Linked DNA regions of Homo sapiens: region 2 is linked to region 1. The links come from fine-mapping of genetic effects on gene expression. A gene starts in region 1. The other region holds a variant in brackets. All regions are shown on one strand. Distances are from middle to middle. Region 1 holds the start of CDC37L1 (cell division cycle 37 like 1, HSP90 cochaperone). Region 2 overlaps CDC37L1 (cell division cycle 37 like 1, HSP90 cochaperone).

The links.
Region 2: its variant is fine-mapped to the expression of CDC37L1 in caudate (GTEx, PIP above 0.99). The same link has a PIP of 0.9 or more in aorta, fibroblasts, hypothalamus, lung, nucleus accumbens and prefrontal cortex.

What each region holds. Positions count from the first base shown.
Region 1 is chr9:4,675,058-4,684,702 of GRCh38, forward strand. It overlaps CDC37L1 (cell division cycle 37 like 1, HSP90 cochaperone), which reads left to right and starts at 4,512. Exons shown (of 7, transcript NM_017913.4): 1 at 4,512-4,842. The coding sequence starts at 4,711. CDC37L1-DT (CDC37L1 divergent transcript) reads right to left here and starts at 4,423. Exons shown (of 2, transcript NR_121598.1): 1 at 4,330-4,423; 2 at 1,543-1,692. RefSeq lists an enhancer at 4,646-4,735.
Region 2 is chr9:4,701,884-4,713,578 of GRCh38, forward strand. CDC37L1 (cell division cycle 37 like 1, HSP90 cochaperone) reads left to right here. Exons shown (of 7, transcript NM_017913.4): 6 at 1-145; 7 at 4,128-6,516. The coding sequence ends at 4,229. It overlaps AK3 (adenylate kinase 3), which reads right to left. Exons shown (of 5, transcript NM_016282.4): 5 at 7,673-11,213. The coding sequence ends at 11,093. Among named protein-coding and RNA genes, the nearest start is that of CDC37L1, 28 kb to the left of the region's middle. The variant A/G (reference allele first, on the strand shown) is at 5,195.

The DNA.
Region 1 (9,645 bases):
TGCCCTTGGGCTTTTTGGACTACATAGTCTTTCCATTTAAAAGTAATTTCTACTCAGAAAAAAACCTAATTTGCTCCTTTGAGTTTCAGCTGGCTAGCTCTATGTCCATGGGAGTAATAGGCAAATTATGACCCAAAGCAATTTCCAAGGAATTTTATTTATTATCCAAAATAAGAAAGTAGAAGTGTATGATTAAGTTCCAAGACTTGTTTAAAAAGTGTCTACTGGAGCTGGGCGTGGTGGTACATGCCTGTAATCCCAGCCACTTGAGAGGCCGAAGCAGGAGGATCTCTTGAGCCCAGGAGTTTGAGACCGACCTAGGTAACATAGCAAGAACTGTTTCCAAAAATAAGTGTTTACTATGCCAGGGCACAGGATTCAGATCCTGAAGTCAGCAATGGCTCAAGATGAGGCTACTTCTGATATCATTATATCCACTCCTTATCTCCTACCAAAATATACTTCTTTCTATTCCTTTTTCACCACCTTCTGCCTTTATTTAACCTTTTCTTTTATCCTTGTTTCCATTCATTCATTCTCTATCCATTTATTCAGCCCACATTTATTGAGTGTCTACTGTAAGCCAGGTATTGTTCTGAGCCATGTAAGTACAAGAGTGAATAAGAAACAATCTGTGCTCTCATGGAGCTTACATTCTATTGGGGTAAGAAACATAATAACTAAGTGAACATAAAATAATAGTATGATGAATAGTAGAAAGGAAATATACAAGGTGGTAAAATAGAACAGGTTGAAGAAGAAACGAGAACTTCATTTAGACTCACTGGCCAGATTGGCCTAAGAGTATGAGATTTGGTCTAAGATCTAAGAAGAAAAGCATGACCACTAGCAAGCCTTTCAAAGTAAGAGAAAAGGCAAAGGGAATAGCAACTCGAAAGGGCCATGAGTTAGGAAAGGAACTGCCATGTTTGAGGAACTGAAAGGAGTCCAAGAGAGATTTTGGGGTGGGAGAGGGCAAGGAAGGTGTTAGGGAGAGGGTTTAAGAAACGACATTCAGGGCCGGGTGCAGTGGTGCACACCGGTAGTCTCAGCACTTTGGGAGGCCGAGGCGGACGGATCACCTGAGGTCAGGAGTTCGAGACCAGCCTGGCCAACATAGTAAAACCCCGTCTCTACTAAAAATACAAAAATCAGCTGGGTGTGGTGGTGCACATCTGTAATCCCAGCTACTCGGGAGGCTGAGGTAGGAGAATCGCTTGAACCCAGGAGGTGGAGGTTGCCGTGAGCTGAGATGGCGCCACTGCAGTCCATGCACTCCAGCCTGGGAGACAGAGCGAGACTCCATCTCAAAAAAAAAAAAGAAAGGAATGACACTCAGGAATTAGGGTGCCACTAGGTTTCACAGGAACTTTATCAATTATGGCAGAGAATGTGATTGCCTACCTTACTGCCACAAACTCTTCCTCCTTGCTAACAGAACTCCAGTTTTGTTTAGGTAGCAATGCATCCAGCTCCAGACAACAAATCATAATTTATGTAAGCCAGTTCTGGCCAATAAGATATAAGGATTTCACTAGAAGGTTTCGAGAAATATCTTTATTCTTCATATGAGAGCCACAAGTGAATAAAGCTGTTTTGCCTCCTTCTCTGTCTTCCTGCTTTAGCTTCTGCCATATTTTGATGTGATGTCCAGAGCTGTAGCAGCCATCCTGCAACCATGATGTAAGAAGCCTGAAGATGAAAGTAAACAGATTTAGGATGCTGGGGAGGAGGGATAGGGATTGAAAGAACCTGAATCTTCCTTTCCTTTTCCTTTCCTTCCCTTCCCTTCCCCTCCCCTCCCCTCCCCTCCTTTTCCTTTCCCTTCCTTTCCTTTCTTTCTTTTGCGACACAGTCTCGCTCTGTCACCCAGGTGGAGTACAATGCTGTGATCTCAGCTCACTGCAACCTCCACCTCCCGGGTAGCTGGGATTACAGGCATGCACCACCAGGTCTGCCTAATTTTTGTATTTTCAGTAGAGACGGGGTTTTGCCATGTTGGCCAGGCTAGTCTCGAACTCCTGGCCTCAAGTGATCCACCCGCCTTGGCCTCACAAAGTGCTGGGATTACAGGTGTAGGCTACCACGCCTGGCCTGAACCTGAATATTTAATGACATCTTCAAACTGCTAAGCCTATCCTGGGATCATTCTTTTTGTTACATACACAATAAATGTCCTTATAGTTTAGGTTTCTTTTAGCTGAGGTTTCAGTTATTTGCATTGAAAGCATATAATTGATATAGCAGGGGTGAGACATGATATGATTTATGTATTTTTTAAAAATCTCTCTGGCAACAGTATGAAGAGATTGTAAGGAGCAAGAATGGAACAGAAGCATGGAAGACTACTGCAGTAGTTCTGAGAAGCAATCATAGTGTTCTGGCCTAGGGAGTATGCAGTAAAGCAGGAAAGAACATAGATTCAAGATGTATTTGGGGGTAAAAACAGTAGGACTTGCTGTTGGTATGAGAGGTAAAGGAGAGGGAGGAACTAAGGCTGAACTCTAGGTTTTGGACTGGATGGTGATGCCATTGATTGACACGGAGAAGACCCAAAGAAGTTTGGGGAAGGCGGTGAGATCAAGGGTTTGGATGTGTTAAATTTAAGATGTGTATGAACCATTAAAATGAGATGACAAATCAGCGGGTAGACATGAGTCTGGAGCACAGGGGTAAGGTCAGGACTTGGATTTCAATTTGAGAATTATAGATACACAGATGTTATTTAAAGCCACAGGAATAAACAGGATTCTCCTCACTGGCCAAAATATGAGGAACTCTAAAGTTAGAGGTCAGCTAGAAGGGAAGAAGACTGAGGAGAAGTAGTGAAAGAGGTAGGAGAAAAACTAACAGCATTAGCGTTTATATAGGGCTTACTTTATGCCAGGCACTATTCAAAGCACTTTGTGGCTTCATGGAAGCAAAGAGAAAAATGTTTTTCTTTTCTTCCTCCCTTTCCAGTCTCTCCTGTGACTTTCACCCCTAAATTCAAAAGGTTTAGGTGCAAAAGTGATTCTCAGCTTTTATTTGTAATTAATTTTATAGTAATCTTGTACTGTTATAATCTTGTACTGTTATAATACTATAATTATAGTATACATTCATTGGAAAAATATTCAAACAGCACAGTACAGGGAAGCTAAATGTGGAAAGTAAAGATCCTCAGAAGCTTTCCTTCCTAGGCTCACCCACCAGAGGTAATCATTAACAGTTTCTTGCATATCCTCCAGGAATGTTCTGCGCAAACACACACACACACACACACACACACACACACACACACGGACGCAAACAAATACCATCCCTCTCTCTTCTCTCTCTGTATACGTACGCATATGTTTAATTCTGCAAGTTGCTTTGTTTAAAACTCAATACCTTTTGGAGGTATTTATATATCAGCATATTCAGATACAATTTACTTTTTTTAAAAAGGGTAATATGCCATTGTATTAATATTCCATACTTTAAGTTCCTCTATCGATGGACAATTAGAATGCTTTTTTTTTTCTTGCCACACACACACAAAAATTGCTGCCAGAAATCTTTGTAGTAAATCTTTGGATATTGGTGCAAAAATAATTGTTGCATACTTTCTTAGTGGTGAAATTGCTGAATCAATCCGCTCAAGCCTCTCATATTGTCAAATTACTCCTCCTAAAAGGTTATACTAATGACATTCTCACATCATTTCCTTACATCTTGGTACACATTTGGTATTAAGCGACTTCACAAGTTTGCCAGTCTAAACACATGGAAAAAAATGGCGTCATGTTGTTTTTATTTGGGTCTCTTTATGAGTAGGGCAGCAAGACCTGATTGTTAAACGTTCAAGTTTTGAAGTTAAACTCCCTGGGTCTGGATCCTACTTCTTCCTTGTAAAATGTGTGATCTCGGGCATGCTGGGTCTACTTCCTCGTCTCAAAAAAAGAGGATAAAGAGAGTACATATCTTTAGGCTTAAACAAGATACGCAGGCATACAGGAAGCCCTTCTTATGCGTTCGCTACTAGCGGTACTGATCCTAATTTTTTTGAAGCCGTGCCGGCTCCGGTACTTTATTTTTGGTGTGCTCCTCCAACCAACCAAGTTTCGCAGAATTCTGTTGTTGCCTGTAATTAGAAATGAGACGAAAATTGGCTCCGCTTGTTCAAAATTCTCCTCCCTCCGCCCCAACTCTGCCTTAGAATCACTGGTTTAAATGTCAATGTAAAGGAATGAGTTGCAATTTTTAAGCAACATGTAAAGTGCACACCTGGTCTGAGTACCTCCCGGCGGCCAGGACCCGCCGTTTTCGGTATAGGGAACACCAGATAACAATATATAACGCTACCTAACAAACGTTTCTCCACCCACAGCGCCATTAGCGGTTAGGTTTGCAGTGCCGAAGAGCTGCAAGAAAACGGGGCTTGAAACAGGAATACAATTGCAGATCCACCCACTACACGCAAAGGGCCCGGGACGCGCCTCCACAGCCCCGCCCCAACCGGAAGTGACGCACCGCGCCGACTATTTCTTCCGCCGTCCGCCGGTGGCGAGGCCCAGGCTGTCGCCGGGTGTGCAGCGGCGTCGCGGCCAGTAGAGGGATTCTGGGTAACGGCCCGGACCCCCGGCTGGGCTTCTGGCTCGGCGCAGCAGGTTCCATTCACGCCAAGTCTGTTGGCAGTGGCAGTTGTAGGGCCAAGGGCGGTTGTAGGACCCGGAGCAGCCGGACATGGAACAACCGTGGCCGCCTCCGGGACCCTGGAGCCTCCCTCGGGCCGAGGGTGAGGCTGAGGAAGAGAGTGACTTCGACGTGTTCCCCAGTTCTCCCCGCTGCCCGCAGCTGCCAGGCGGCGGCGCCCAGGTGAGAAGGGGCCTGCGTTCTGCGGAGGGATGGAGTGGTGCTGTCGCCAAACCCCTGGAATGCCGCGTCTCCCAGACCCTCTTCTACGCCTTTTTCTACGCCCACCTCACTGCCAGGGGCCGGGGACCTGGGACCTGACGCCTGATGCCATCCCACCCCTTTTATGGCATCTTCGGAGGGCAGACGGGGTGGCCATATATTACCAACCTCCACCTCCACGCACATGTTTTCTTTCGCCTTGGCTGATTCCTGTTCACTCTTGGAATACCTTCCTCCATCTCCCCTTCCTGACAGCACTCAGATTTGGGGCGGCTCATGCTGTAACATTGACCCTTTGTCCTCTTGTGAGAGGTTTTCCCCAAGCACTTTATTCTGTTAAAGGCTCTAGCATACTTGTGCACAGTTGCTAGGAACAGTGAATGATTGTAGTTCAGCATCACACTGAGTCCTGACAAAGATTTCACATGCGATTTTCACCGATGTTGACAACTGAGTAAATTCTTTAAATCTCGCTTTTGACGCTGGCGTACACCTCTCCCATTCGCGTGACCATCTTTGCCTTACTGTTTTGTTTTTTAGTTTTGCTTCACGTCATTCTCCAGTGAAAATATATACGCATATACTTGTGTTTTCCTTCAGACTTCTCTTAGGTTCCTGGTATTGTGTTTTCAATCCAGCATTCCTGCCTTCCTGCGACTGAAACGTATCCAAATGTGATATACTATTAAGGATTTTTCAGGGACCTATCTTAGGGGATACTTACATACTCGCATCACCTTGTCCTGTTTTTTTCTCCGAATCCGTGTGTGTTTTGGAAGTATATTTCAGAATCACAGACTAAACACTAATATATTCAATGGATCATAAGTGTCTGCCGCCTTCTTGCAAAATGGGGTTCCCAAGAGTGTAACAGATTTAATAGTAGTTTTCCTCTCAACTTATTTTGCTAGATGTTAATGAGAATGAGTTAAATTGCTTACCAGTAAGCGTGACATTATCAATCTTATGTCCAGCTAACAGGGTTAGTTGGCTTCACACAGAGAAAAATGCTGTTTCATAACCACTGTCTGTACTTTGGCCAGCTAAGTCACTGGGGAACTACAAGACATTTTTTAGGAGGACAGAATGAGAGTTGATGGGTCCATCATTAGTCACCCACTAATTTTGGATCACTAGTGTCATCTTTATATACAAAATGTATTATAAGCACATGATGTGCTAGGGAGGAAAGAAGAATGAACAGCAGATGCCATTGTCAATTTTGAAGGCATATGAAGAGAAAAAAGGGTGTCAAGAATTTCAGTGCATTGTGGTTGAATTACAGAAGTAATCTAGAGAAATATCTGTATGTTAATTTCTTACTTGTGCACTTCTAAATTTGTTTAGCTGGAAGAGATTTTAGAAGTGAGTAAGCTTATCTCTCTCATTAAAAGTGTTTTCCCTGAGGCCATGTAACTAGTTAGTGGCCAGGTTAAAACTAGAACCCACTTATGACTCCTAGTCCAGTATATTTTCCCACCTACTGCACTGCCCACCAGAGTTCGAGACCAGCCTGACCAACATGGAGAAACCCTGTCTCTACCAAAAATACAAAATCAGCCTGGTGTGGTGGCGCATGCCTGTGATCCCAGCTACTCGGGAGGCTGAGGCAGGAGAATTGTTGGAGGCAAAGGTTACAGTGAGCCGAGATCACACCATTGCATTCCAGCCTGGGCAACAAGAGCGAAACTCTTGTCTCAAAAAAAAAAATTTTTTTTGCAAACTGATTATTAATTCTGAGTTCATGTGTTTATTACAAACCTACTTATTGGTCTTACTGGCTTTAAGACTTAAATTTTTGGATTGGAATATTTGGAAAAAATAAAATGTTTAATTGATTAACATTTTATAATCCTAAAAAAAGCTTTGGCTTAATTTTATCAAATAAGGGGGATCTAGACTTCTTAATGTAGTATGTGATATGTAGTTCTTAGATCCAATTAATGTAAAGGCAGATCATGTTTAATGTCCCTCTAAAACTTCTGTATGGTCATGGATTAGAATGTGACCTAATATTTTATTTAATATCTGAATACATGTTGGATAGTTTGCCCAAATGGCCAAATGTTGTCTGGGTAGTTTGTGGAGAAATAAGACATACATTATTTTTAGAATTTTTCGATTTGAGAAAAGAATATTTGCTCCCAAATAATTTGAAAATGCAAGATAATTTCTATTTATCCATATTACCATATTACTTTTCTTGATATATTATCCTTTCTCTTTTTTTTTTTTTTTTTTTGAGGCAGTGTCTTGCTGTGTTGCCCAGGCTGGAGTGCAATGGCACGATATTGGCTCACCACAGCCTCCGCCTCCCAGGCTCATGTGATTCTCCTGCCTCAGCCTCCTGAGTAGCTGGGATTACAGGTGCCCACCACTGTGCCCAGCTAATTTTTTTTTTTTTTTGAGATGGAGTCTCGCTGTGTCACCCAGGCTGGAGTGCAGTGGTGCAATCTCGGCTCACTGCAACCTCTGCCATTCTGGGTTCATGCCATTCTCCTGCCTTAGCCTCCCAAGTAGCTGGGACTACAGGCACCCGCCACCATGCCCGGCTAATTTTTTGTATTTTTAGTAGAGATGAGGTTTCACCACGTTAGCCAGGATGGTCTCGAGCTCCTCCTCGTGATCCGCCCGCCTCGGCCTCCTGAAGTGCTGGGATTACAGGTGTAAGCCACCACTCCCGGCCATGCCCAGCTAAGTTTTAAAATATTTTTAGTAGAAACGGGGTTTCGCCATGTTGGCCAAGCTGGTTTCGAACTCCTGACCTCAGGTAATCCGCCCGCCTCAGCCTCCCAAAGTGCTGGGATTACAGGCGTGAGCCACTGAGCCCAGCCAAAAGAAGTTTTATATACAAAAGTTCTTACATCTTTTCTTACAAAATAAGTTATATAGCTTAATTTTTCTCCTTTTCCTGGCTCTGTTTTAAGCATAGCTAGTCTACAGTTATTCTTGATCCTATTCTAAGATAACTATTCTTGATCCTATTCTAAGATAACAAAAAGTAAAAATAAATATTTTATTTTAAAATATTATATTTTATATTAAAATATTTTATATTAAAATATAATATATATATTAAATATATATTATATTTATATATAAAATATATTTTAAAATATATTTTAAAATATACTTTATATATTTTATATATATATTTTATTTTTATATATAAAATATATTTTATATATATTTTATAATATATGAATATATATTATAAAATATACTTAGGGACATGGTTTATAGTACCTTGGCTCCAAACCTGCTGAATGAGTAAATAAAACATCTGAATAGCAAGTGTCCACATTTGTCCCAGTACAAACGTGAGTTTGCCTGAAGACTCAGCTAAGAGGTAGGGTCCTTGGTTACTACTTGCCTCAGAATTGTTTACCACCACCAGTCAGTAAACAAATAAGCATGATATTGTATGACAAACACCACAACAGAAATATGCATAACTTGGGTCGGGAGACACTGGGTCAGAAAAAGTTTAGGGCATGCCAGAATCTGGATGAAGATAGGAGTTTCTGTAGGAGTTACCTCGAAGAAAGAGGATTGCCAAATTGAAGTGAGGGACAAGGGTGGGAAAGGGAAGAATAAGCAAACAAGTAGAAGAGCAATGGGAACTGAGTCTAAAGAGGTAATGGGAAATAACATCACGAAGGGCTTTGCCACAGAGTATGTACTTTATCCCAAAGCTAAGAATGAAAAAAAAGATCAGATTCATTTTTTGGAAAGATCACTCCAGTCTAGTGGAGTGGAGAACGGCTTGGGATAAGAGTCTGCATTTGTATAATTCACATGTGAAATTATAAGGGCTTGAATAGTGATGCAGATATGGGAACAGATTGGAGAGAAATTATTCTGAAGTTGATGTACATTTGACGAAGAACTCATAAAGAATGTGCCTTCAGCTTTTGTTTTATAGAGCCAAGGAATATAGGGTATTGAATGTCTATCACAGTACTTTACATGTAGTAATTAAGTAAATAAAAGTAATTACTACTGCTTCGGAGTAGTACGGTCAGCAGGGTAGACCATTGTCACTTTTAAGAAATGTAACTTTGTGGCCAGGCGCAGTGGCTCATGCCTGTAATCCCAGCACTTTGGGAGGCCAAGGTGTGTAGATCACGAGGTCAAGAGATCAAGACCATCTTGGCCAACATGGTGAAACCCTGTCTCTACTAAAAATACAAAAATTAGCTGGGCATGGTGGCACATGCCTGTAGTCCCAGGTACTTGGGAGGCTGAGGCAGGAAAATCACGTAAACCCCAGAGGCAGAGGTTGCAGTGAACTGAGATCGCACCTTTGCACTCTAGCCTGGTGACAGAGCAAGACTCCATCACAAAATATATATATATATAATTTGCCTATTTTGATTAGGAATAAATTAAAGGATATCTGTCTGATATAATCAGTTATAAATGGAAATATCCAATAAGAACTTCTCAAATCACCAAGGATTGGAAAAATACAGATAGAAAATAGAAACCAAGAAACGATTACTTCTAGATAAAAGGAGGTTTTTTTGTAGTGAAGAATTTGGAGAACAAAATTATAAAGGCCTGGTTGTCAGCATGTTGAGTATTGAGGTGATGAACTAGATTTAAGCTTTGTTCTCATTATTCTGCTTGTTCAGGATTATGAAGACTATTAATTAAACGTTTGTTAAGCACTAGCTTTATGCAAGACACTGTGATAGTTGCCAGGCTTTTTGTTGCTGTTAGTTGTCAGGGGATAGGCCTAAATTAACAAAGAAGTTTAGA
Region 2 (11,695 bases), 28 kb after region 1:
TGAAGCATTCAAAAATGAACTTGAAGCTTTCAAGTCAAGAGTAAGACTTTATTCTCAATCACAAAGTTTTCAACCTATGACAGTTCAGAATCATGTTCCCCATTCTGGTGTTGGATCTATAGGTTTATTAGAATCCTTACCACAGGTAAGTTGGAAAAGTAAATATTTGTTTTATAAGCCTATTAATTCACATAATTTTTGTTATTTTGCCCCACTCTTTTTTTTTTTTAATATGTGCTACTATTTTAAATATTCCTGCCTCAGAAGATAACTGTTGAATCTTACTTCATGCCATGTTTTGGTGCTGAATCTCACCTCTTAAGTATTTAGAGATACCAGATTTCCTCTCCTTTTAATGTAGTAGTGATTAGTTATACCTAACCATTCTTAAGAACAAATCTTAGCTATTGATCATCTCAATCATAAACTCTTCAAGATGGCTCCCTCAGGAGCTTCCTTAAAACATCTCATCCTGAGTTAAAACTATGCCATTTTGAATTTTTTAGGATGATTAGCTTCAAAGTGGACATGCACATGGAACCAGTGTGATCTGTTGCTTAAGTTTATTTAGTATTTTCTTGTTAAATGTTGGGTCTACCAGATATAACATTTTTAGAACACATTAATGTAGCTGATAATATTGTATCTGGTAATACTGGCCAACTGTTTGAGCCTCTTTGAAGTCTTCAGTGGTTTGATCAAGATAAAACCATGTCGGCTGGGCGCAGTGGCTCGCGCCTGTAATCCCAGCACTTTGGAAGGCCGAGACAGGCAGATCACGAGGTCAGGAGATCGAGACCATCCTGGCTAACAAGGTGAAACCCCGTCTCTTCTAAAAAAAAAAAATACAAAAAAATTAGCCGGGCGTGGTGGCAGGCACCTGCAGTCCCAGCTACTCGGGAGGCTGAGGCAGGAGAATGGCGTGAACCCGGGAGGCAGAGCTTGCAGTGAGCCGAGATCGAGCCACTGCACTCCAGCCTGGGCGACAGAGCAAGACTCCGTCTCAAAAAAAAAAAAAAAAAAAAAAAAATCATGTCATATAGGCAGCATGAAAAAATTTACATCAAAAAGGAGACATGATCAGACCACTGGTCTGCCTGATGCTAGTTAGGATTACAAGTTTAAGTTATTATTAGATAATTCCTACCCATTTGATTTTACTAGTAGCACTTTAATAGAGCCCAGTCATCTCTCATTTCCAGGCTCCAAGATTTTAAGACCAGCTTTAGCCAGTTTAATCTGTTGTCTACATTGTGAGAAGGAAAGTCTTATTCAAAAGACAATGTGAGGAGAGTCCTATATTTAGTTTTAAACCTCATAAAGTGCTAAAAATTGGGATTTTCAGTGGCTTGACCTTATCTCACTGTAATTTCACCATTCCAATTACATGTATGTCCTTTAAGGAAAGTGATTGATCATATTTACCCCAGTCAAAAATATTATTATCAGGAGTCTCTGAGCCTACTCTGGCTGAAAAAAAAAAAAAAAAGTCTCAAGGATGGAAATAATTAATGTTTGATTTTTAAATAATTAGTAATGTTCCCCCTTAGTTAGACATGTAAAGAATATTCCCTCTACAAATTCCTACAGATTATCTCTTAATTTTATTTAAATTCAGTGATGATTTTTCTCTTCAGTTCCTAAGAAATAGCCCATAGGGAAGTAGTTTTTCCAGGGGAATTCTGTGACCAAGTCACTGTGAAATCCAATATATAAACCTCCTGCAATTAAAATGTCACATAATGCATGGGAAGGAGAAAAGAGACTTTGGAAGGATGTAACTGATTCTAAATATAAGAGGGAAAGATACACATTATAGTATCTTAAGCCTATATTATCAAGAAGTTGCCTCTGGTTTGAGAGAAGTAAGTCCTTGTTGTTATTAGATAGCAACTATATATTAGATAGCAACTGATATCAGGTGCTAGGCATCCCTTATAGTCATGGGGGGACTAGAATTATACAATTCTGACACTTCTGTATTGCTGATATTATCAGGGTTATTCAGATTTAATTAAGCTGGGCTAATCTCCTCATGGTGGGAGACCAATTCCTTATGGTAAGTAATTTGAGCATCCTGATGTGGTCCTTCTGAAGGATACAAGGGCTGGAGAAAATTTCAGTTAGATGCTTGCTACATGTGCGGAAAGGATTATCGACTAGTTGAGGGAAGTAAAATGAGAGGCCACCTGAAAGACCAAATCATCAGTTTAGAGGTTTGGAAGAAAAATCTTACCATAATAATAACATCCCATTTTTATATCAGTTTATATGTTGTAAAGCACTTTCACACATATTATTTAATTTTCTCAAACACCCTGTGATTCATTTTCATTCATTTTTATAGATGAGTAAACTGAAATTCATAGAACTTAAGAAATTTGCCTGAGGTCAACACAATAAGTGATGAATCTAATATTCTACTTTTGGATTTCTATTATGCTTCACTGCTTATTCACCTATACCACAGACTGTGAATCATATGTGTTGAGAATGTTACTAGATGAAAATATGGGACAGTCAATGAAATCTAAGTGTAGGTTAGGTCGGGTATACCGATTCCTTCTTATTTTTTAAAGTCTCTGTATGATAGTATCTTACAGTTCTTAGGAAGATGGGTGGATGAGTTTTGGAGAATCTCCTCAGCCAATTCTGTTATTAAAAGTTGTGCCATGGAAAACTGGAGCCCAGTCTTAATAGAGTAATTGTAAGCTCTGTTCCAGAGAATTAGGCTTGGATTGTTAGAAAAAGGTCTTAAAGCTGTTTTTTTGGAGAATGAGACAATGTAACAATAATATTGGTCATTTTTGATAAAGCTTAAGTGTGGGTAACCATTTAGCTTTTCATTTCTTTTTTTTAATAATTGACAGCAATCGTGTGAAATAAGCCAAATACCATTCATTATCCTTAGTTTTGAGAGGTCTAATCCAAGGCCTCTTGGATATAGAAATAATAACAGTTAACTTTAGGTTTATCCTGTAGACTAGTTTTTAATTTTACTAAATTGTGAATTTTGTTCTCCTTGAGGCTTGCTTTACTAAATAGAGGCAGGATTAAAACTGAAGCCCAGTGTGAGTGTCCCAGACCTCAGTCAGTTGTCCCTGCTACTTCCTTCATAAAGACCTGATTGGGAATAATCCGAACTCCAGCTAGCTTTTTGACTTTTAGAATAAAGGAATCTCACAAAGTGTTGTACTTTCTTAGGAGGATCTTTAGAAAACCCTGCCTCCCAACCTCCTATTGGATGGTGAGGTTTAAGACATCTATCCTGTTTGACTACTGTCCTCACTGGTGTTTATTAAATAAAATAAATATAAGTAAAACTAGTAATACAAGTGGTAAAAGTCTTAAGTAACTAGCAGATATTCGGAACAATTGAGTAGACAAAATTGAATTGGGGAAGAATTTTCTAAAGTTCTGGGTCTTAAGGGCTATACCCTTATTCATGGTGCTTTAATAATGGTTTTATTTTTGCATTTATTGAGTAAGATTTTATGTTTTCTATTCCCAGTTTTTGAAATTGACAAGCATAACATTTATGAGTTTATGCTTGTTTAACAAATCCTGTTGTTTTATTCTCAGTTTAAAAAATAAGGGTGTAAATACATCTCAAAAGTGTACAGATTTCTCACTGAGTTTGTTTTAACCTTTGGGAAACCACAATAGACCCTGAAGATATCCATAATTTTTACCCAGTAAATTTTTTCTTTATTTAGATGATTTGCAGTTTTAGTATTTACTGTTGTAATTAGATGGTAATCTTAAAAATGCATTGCTAACTTCAAACCATATTTAAATTATCAGTAGCTATGTATATATAATCACATGGAGGTTGTAGCCTTGCCTTGTATGATTAAACAGAGAAGAAAGGTGGTATTTGTTAACATTTCTGTTTTTTACATGTATCATTCTTTTATCACATCTCATAGGTGATAGCATCCTATTTTTTTCTTTATTTTCTTGGGATTCAGCCCAAGTCTGTCTCCAAAGTCCATCTTCTTTCCTACTGCTCTACTACACTGCAGAGAAATAGGACGGTGAAACTGAATATATATGTATGTACTGTCATAAAACTGGTTATAATGCGTTCTTTTTCTCCCCCCAATCTACCTTTTCTTTTTCCCCAGAATCCAGATTATCTTCAGTATTCTATCAGTACAGCTCTCTGCAGCTTAAACTCGGTGGTACATAAAGAAGATGATGAACCCAAAATGATGGACACTGTATAATTTGGTTAAGACTGCTGAGGCCAAGTGCTATTTTGTTACAAGAAAGGAAGAACTTGGCTATTTTCTTGACACTTTTATGGGTGCTGCACTTTATTTTTGTTCGGTTTTTGATGGGAGGGAAAGAGTACTGAAATGTTTTGTAAATTTTTTTTAATGTGCTGCTAGGTTTTTTGTTTTGTTTTGTTCTGAAGAGAAGAGTGGTACCATATGTTGCAGGAAGTCAAACTGGACTTTTTGTGGCTACTAAATTTGCTTTTAATCTTATTGTTCTCAATTTTGGAATCAAGTATGAAAATCTGCACAAATGCAATGTTTACAAGAACTGGTTGATTCTGGGAGGCATCTGCTACAGTCTCTTTTTATATGGATATGTACATGTCCTATTCTACAAAAATGATTAAAGATAAAAACATACTTGTATCCCACTGCTACTTTAGCTGTCAAATTTGGTGTTTCATCACATTAAAAGCAATAAATCAGTAGTTGGTAATGTACTTTACTAAATAAGTTGGGGGGTACAATTTTTAAAAGTCTTAACTCTTAAATACTTGACTTTCGGCACCATCAGTTAAATCCTTGACTATAATACAAATTTGATATATACATTACATTTACCCTCAAATTATTCTCAAAACTATATTCCTTAGAATTTGATTTTACCCTGCTGACTTTAAGAGTTATAATAATATCAAATGTGATGAGCTAATATAGATTTTCTTTTTAAATAAGAATAACTTCAAGCTCACTCTTTCTTAACATAGTCTGGGATCTCTCAGGGAGTAAGTTTTAAAAGAATACTAATGGCTTGTAAGAACAAACAGGAATAATAATCTGATTTTTAAATTTGTAGTTATTTTACTCATGTTGCCTTTTAATTTTTGTTATTTTGGTTTATTTTTTGATGTAGCCTTTTAAAAAAGGAGTCTTAAAAATGATTTTTTTTTTAAAGGCAAGAGAAATCTTGT[A/G]GTGCTAACTGCCTTGAGCTGCCAATTACCTATTTCTGAGAATTTGGTGACTCTTATTGGTAATGATGGCATTTACAACATTTGGCATTTCCCCTTTTTCAGCTCAGTTACCATAGAATACTTCCAAGCTTTACTACTTCCTCTGTAAGTCATTTCAGTTATGCCAGGATATTTGATGATTTTGTTTATGTAGAATTAGGTAACAAAGCCAATTATGCTATCCTTATTATTGAAGGATTAATCTTATGACTTAACATAAGCTTTGGTTATATTTGGGTGTAGTCTTTGGCTAAGTACCCATTAAGGCTAGTAGCAAACACTTGGAAGGTGGCTAACTGGGACTGGGAATACGTGTCTCAACTTGAGAAACCAAATAGTGCGAAGGGACTCAGGGTGGCCAGACCTGTGACCTTGGCCTCATTTGTATCTTGTTTTCGCTGAGGTGATCAGACACTTAGTACCCTAGAAATGGACTGGAATTATTGAATCTTCTTCTGTAACATCACAATCTTCCTGGTTTTCAGAATAAACGTTTTTGTGCTTTTGATATAAATATATACTCTATAATAAAATGTTTGACTAATTTATATAGTAGTGTTTGTCAGCCTGTACTTTTTTTTTTTTTAAACCCATGACCTAGTCGTAGACATTTTTTTCTTTTTGTTCTGTTCTGAAGCAAGCTCTTATTTTTCCCTTTCTACCAAATTGAGAGAATGGGCAGACACAGGAGCCATATTCCTAGTTTCACAGAAATGTTACTTGAATTATTATTTTCCCTTCTTTCCCAGGATTTGCCTGTAAGCATTCAAATTGTTTTGAATTTCATTTTGCCTTCTCTAAGTTAGAGGTATTTAATGACTGAAGACTGGCAGGAGAGAAAGTATCAACAAACTGAGTAAACTATTCTTGAGGGGCACTGAAAAGATGTTCTTTGAAACTTGATTTATATATTTTTACTTGCAAAAGAATATACTGTGTTTTGAGTATGAAAGTGTGATTGGGTCTGTTGTGGGAACCACTGACTGATGCCATAATTTGCACTTAAAGGCTATAAATTACATAGTTAGCCGTACTTTAGTACTAGAAACAGTAAATTGACATCCTTGAACTAATTCCTACCTTTTTTTTGTTTCTGAAGAAATAAAGAGTATATTAAGCAAAGGGATAATTTATATTTCAGGTTGGACAATTTACCCTAAACAAATTAAACCATGGAAAGTGCAAACACATGAATGAAACATTTTTTTACATCAAAGTATCATCAAAGATTCTTGTTTCATTTGATAAAATTAATATTTGAATAAAAAAATTTTTAAATCAAATAGCTGTCCATTTATTCTCTGTTAACTCAGTGTCATTTTTTCAGTGGTAGTGAAGATAATACTGCCTTAAAATTATTACTCTTAGGTAGATGGGTAACATTCTCTTCCAATTATACCATTAGTGAGCTCTTTCAAATTTTGCCTAATGAGCTCACAATCTCTTATAACTTCTCTTTAGGAAAATCAGGTCCTCCTCTTCTTTCAGACTGGCATATCATATTATTACCCTTTTAAAAATGAATGAACAGCCGGGCGCAGTAGCTTACGCCTGTAATCCCGGCACTTTGGGAGGCCGAGGCGGGTGGATCCTGAGGTCAGGAGATCGAGACCATCCTGGCCAACATGGTGAAACCCTGTCTCTACCCAAAATACAAAAATTAGCTGGGCATGGTGGCGCGTGGCTGTAGTCCCAGTTACTCAGGAGGCTGAGGCAGGAGAATCGCTTGAACCCCGGGAGGCAGAGGTTGCAGTGAGCCAAGATGGCGCCACTGCACTCCAGCCTGGCAACATCTAAAAATGAAAATGAACATGCTGCCCAAAGAACATGAATCTGTTTTAGTAAGTGGATTTTCTAACAGGATGAAAAAAGTTGACTGTAGGTTTAGGCAAGGTGATCCTGAAGTTAACCTTTGGGTATTTTCAGAGGAGAACGAAATGTCAGTTTACTTTTCTAAGTCAATCATGTATTTCAGTTCTTAAATTGGTGTGGGACAGAACCGAGGTACTTGTCTGGGTTGAGGTTGGGCTTTCCATTTCATGGGCTTTCCATTTCAATTTTGCCATTATAGCAAACATACTTTTAACAAAACCCTTAAATCCATCCATCTCTCATCTGTAATGGACATGTATATACAATTGCATAGTTCTGAGAAGTTGATTTATCTGAAAATTATTTGCTCACTATGTGAGCCAAGGGGGTCGGGAGGGGGACACAGGGTGAATATAAGTTCATTATGGATTGTTCACCATCTAATATGAAGTGAAACCATTCTCATAAGCTTTGAAGAATTAGACTTGTTTGATCTCTAAATATAGAAAATGATTATTAAAATTCCCACATCTTTCACACAGTTAACAGCATGATTCTTCATGTTATTTACACATCAGACATTTAACTTGGAATGCTTTAGAAAAAGATGACACAGTGCTGGACTGATTTACACTTAGGCATGACAGTTTATTCAGTGCTATATATGGAAAAATCAGTGTTTATATTATTTAGTGAGCTAAAAACAAATAAAAAGCAGGAGGGGGATAAGGGCTCTACAAAGCATACTGGCTTTTACCAGAAGCTTTAAGCACAGCTACACTATTTTAACTGTTTAAAAATTTTTTAACCATAACTTCCAAGATGAAAATCTTTAACTGCAAAGATAGAAAAGCTATTTCTACAGTTTATCAGGGCCTGAGGATTTATTTTTATTTTTATTTTTATTTTTTGGTCAATGAGAAGACACAACATATTCTAAAATACAAATTCTTGCTGTTGGTTGCAACTATAGCAATTTAACATAATTTGAGATCTATAATTACAATGATTTGTTGTTAGTATAGGGCAGTTTTGTCACAAGTTATGAGGATCCAAAATATCTTGCTAGAATGCCATTATATATAGCTGGGGGAAAAGTAGCCATAGGGTGGGGTTTAGAGATTTGAGCCAGTATTTAAACTATTTGAAATGGAACTGACAGAAATTTCTGGATGGTGCTAACAACTGCTAGTTTGCATTTCCCACAGTACACGCTGCTTACAAAAGGTATAGCAAAATAACTTTTACTCTATAAAATAAATCAGTTGAGGTGCTGTTCTCCCTGGCTTTTTTTTTTGAGACGGAGTCTCCCTCTGTCGCCCAGGCTGGAGTGCAGTGGCACGATCTCAGCTCACTGCAACCTCCGCCTCCCGGATTCACACCATTCTCCTGCCTCAACCTCCCGAGTAGCTGGGACTACAGGCGCCCGCCACCATGCCCGGCTAATTTTTTTTTTTTTTTTTTGTATTTTTAGTAGAGACGGGGTTTCACCGTGTTAGCCAGGATGGTCTCGATCTCCTGACCTCGTGATCCGCCCGCCTCGGCCTCCCAAAGTGCTGGGATTACAGGCGTGAGCCACCGCGCCCGGCCTCTCATTGGCTTTTAACAAAAGTATAGTAGTTTCTCCTAGCCATGGCATTCAGCTCCATACATGTATTTCCATGTGGTACATAAATCTTAATGATGGTCATTACAGAATTATTTTTTTGGGTGGGGGCAGTGGCTTACACCTGTAATCTCAGCACTTGGGAAGCTGAATCAGGAAGACTGTTTGAGGCCAGGAGACTAGCCTGGGCAACATATCGAGACGCCGTCTCTACAAAAAAATAAAATTAGCCAGGCATGGTGGTACATACCTGTAGTTTCAGCTACTTGGGAGGCTGAGGTAGAAGAATTGCGTGAGCCCAGGAGTTCAACGTTACAGTGACCCAATTATGCCACTGCACTCTAGTCTGGGCAACAGAGTGAGGCCCTGTCTAAAAAAAAATAAAGAAAAAAGTTGTATTACAGTCATATTCATTCCTAAAGTAATGAATGTATGTGCAAAACTTTGGGCTAAGTGTTTGCGGGTGGGGAGGGAATGGTCACAGGAAATAAGAGTCTTAATTCTCATAGCCATGTTCTTCCACTGCTCACTTTGATTTCCAAATCCCCTAAGGGTATTATGAAGGCCGGTATGGCTACCATAGCAGGAGATGAAGTATTGCATAAACTGAAACCAGCCTATGGACTGTTTTAAGATCATTTATTAGAACAGTCATTCAGAAGCCATTGAGACATCAGGCAGCAGAAAGGAAGGTGGGATGGAGCAGGCCCTGTGAAGGACCAAGAACAAAGTAATAGCCACAGTTATGAAATTTCATTTTATTCTGATAAAGACTAATATATGCTTGATAACCTAGTGATAATCCATAAGTTTGGTATTTCACAACATTTTTTAGAAAGCACATAAGATTAACATTCAAATAAGGCATTATAGAAAGTTTTATAAAGAATGAAGTGTTTCCTATATTTCTTTTAAAAAACCTTGGTTCATCTTGAAAGATCGATGAATTTTTTAAATATCAGAAGAAAAGGGAAATAAAATTTTCCCCCCAAAACACATAAGAACCACTTACTGGCACTTGTATTTTAAGTACCTGGGAAAAAAACGGAACAGATTTTTAAAGGCAATAACGACTTGTAAGACGGCTTGTTTCATTTGATTTGGCACGAAGTAAAGTAAGAGTAAATATGCCATGGAAGACATAATCAAGTTTTTCCTCCATCTCTCATATTTCCCCACTTCTACCAGACCACACAGTACATCAGCAACCATCCTTTAGATTCCAATTTTTAAATGGCTGCTCAGACGACACCAATAGAGTTCTTTCTCCTTAAAATATGGTGGCAGTGAATGCTAACAGGTATCAATTTCTTTGATCAGGAACAAAGAACTCCTTCAGGAAACTCACTTTCCTGGTCCTTGTTAACCTATCATGTAAATTCTTTTTATTGGTACACCTGTTTACTAATTATGATTGATTGCTATTTATGCCAAGGGAGCATTTCCCAGGCATGCCTCATCTATTTACTAACAACAAAGTATGCTTACTTTATTTACATAGTGCCACGGGTTTCTCTTTTTTCTTCTCTTTTTTATTGGCGGGGGAGATGGTACTATAACTTGTTATTTATCAGGGCAGATCACACATTTGGATCAAAAAGAAAAACCAGCAAGTAGATCCTAAAACACATTTCTTAACCTGAGTCATAACTGAAAACATAGACTTTAATTACATTTTGTTGAAAATTCATTCAACTTTGGTGCTTGTAAAAGCACTTATGTCAATTTTTGACACAAATCATAACCCTCAGTACACAGGTATTTTCAAAGGAAACAAGTCATCTTAAAGTAATATTTTTCTATATGCTAATTGATACATCTTTATAGCAAATTGAAAATTCTGAGTAAACTGAAAGTATGCTTAACGACAAAATAAATACAGCATATATGGTTAACATATACATTTCTTAGTGTAAAGGCAGCAGTGAATTTGTGTCTCACAATAAATCTGTAAATCCAGTTGCTTTCTTTCTGGAATTTTATATAGTGTCTCACCATGTTCCACAATGCTGGAAATGTCTTTTTTGGCATCAATCTATGCACAAATTTCTGATTACGTATTTTCTCCAAATGACATGTAACTTTTTTTAACTTTTCCAGAAAAATATGGAAACTTTATCAACCACTTATTAACTGAACAAAAAGTTAGATTACTACCAAATGCTCTTTTAATTTTGCTCTAACAGATGTTTTAAAGGTTCAGACATCGCTGATGTTTTTGAGGATAACTGCATACAACACACTAGATGATTTCAAACGATGCATCTTAGTATCCGAATCATTTGGCACATCCTTAGTATCCAAAATAAAATCAGTAGAAATAAAAGTAATATAATTTTCAAAGAATTCATACATACTAGAAGTCTTAGGAAAAGCAGCTTCTAAATGCAAGGACTAGGAGGTTTGCCCATCTTACTATTAATAGTTACACACATTTCTCCTCATGGAGTAACTGAAGCTTTCTGGCTTCTTTGTGGAACTTTAGTTTGTAGGAAAGCATATACATAGGGCCAAATCTTGTTGGTTTCTGTTCCGGAGAATGTTTCCAGCACCCCTTTTTTCCTAAAGATGAAACAAAAACAAAACAAACACACACAGGTCTGAGTCTTCCTAATAAGCTCTTTCAAAGCCTTTCTGTAAATAATGATATTGTAGATATAGGAGTCTTGGTAAGTATAGATTTGTGTAATCAGGAGAGAAAGGCACTTGGCTGGGCATTGGAAAATGTACATTTTGGTTTCAGTTGTGCTCTCTGGCTTACAAAAATGGGTGCTTAAAAAAATAACAGCACCTATCATTTATTTTATTTATTGAACATGCACTGTGTGTCAAAGGCTGTGCTACATGCTTTACATATTATAGTTTGTTTAATCCTTTCCAAAGCTCAAATTTTCTTATTTTACTAATAAAATCATCCCTTTGTAATGTAACTTAGCCCAAATCACCAAGTTGGTAGTACATTTCCAAACAGGACCTATAAGATACCAGAACACCCATCAGCCTTTTTTTTCTACTTACTCTTTTGCAAAAGCTACTTTCTAATA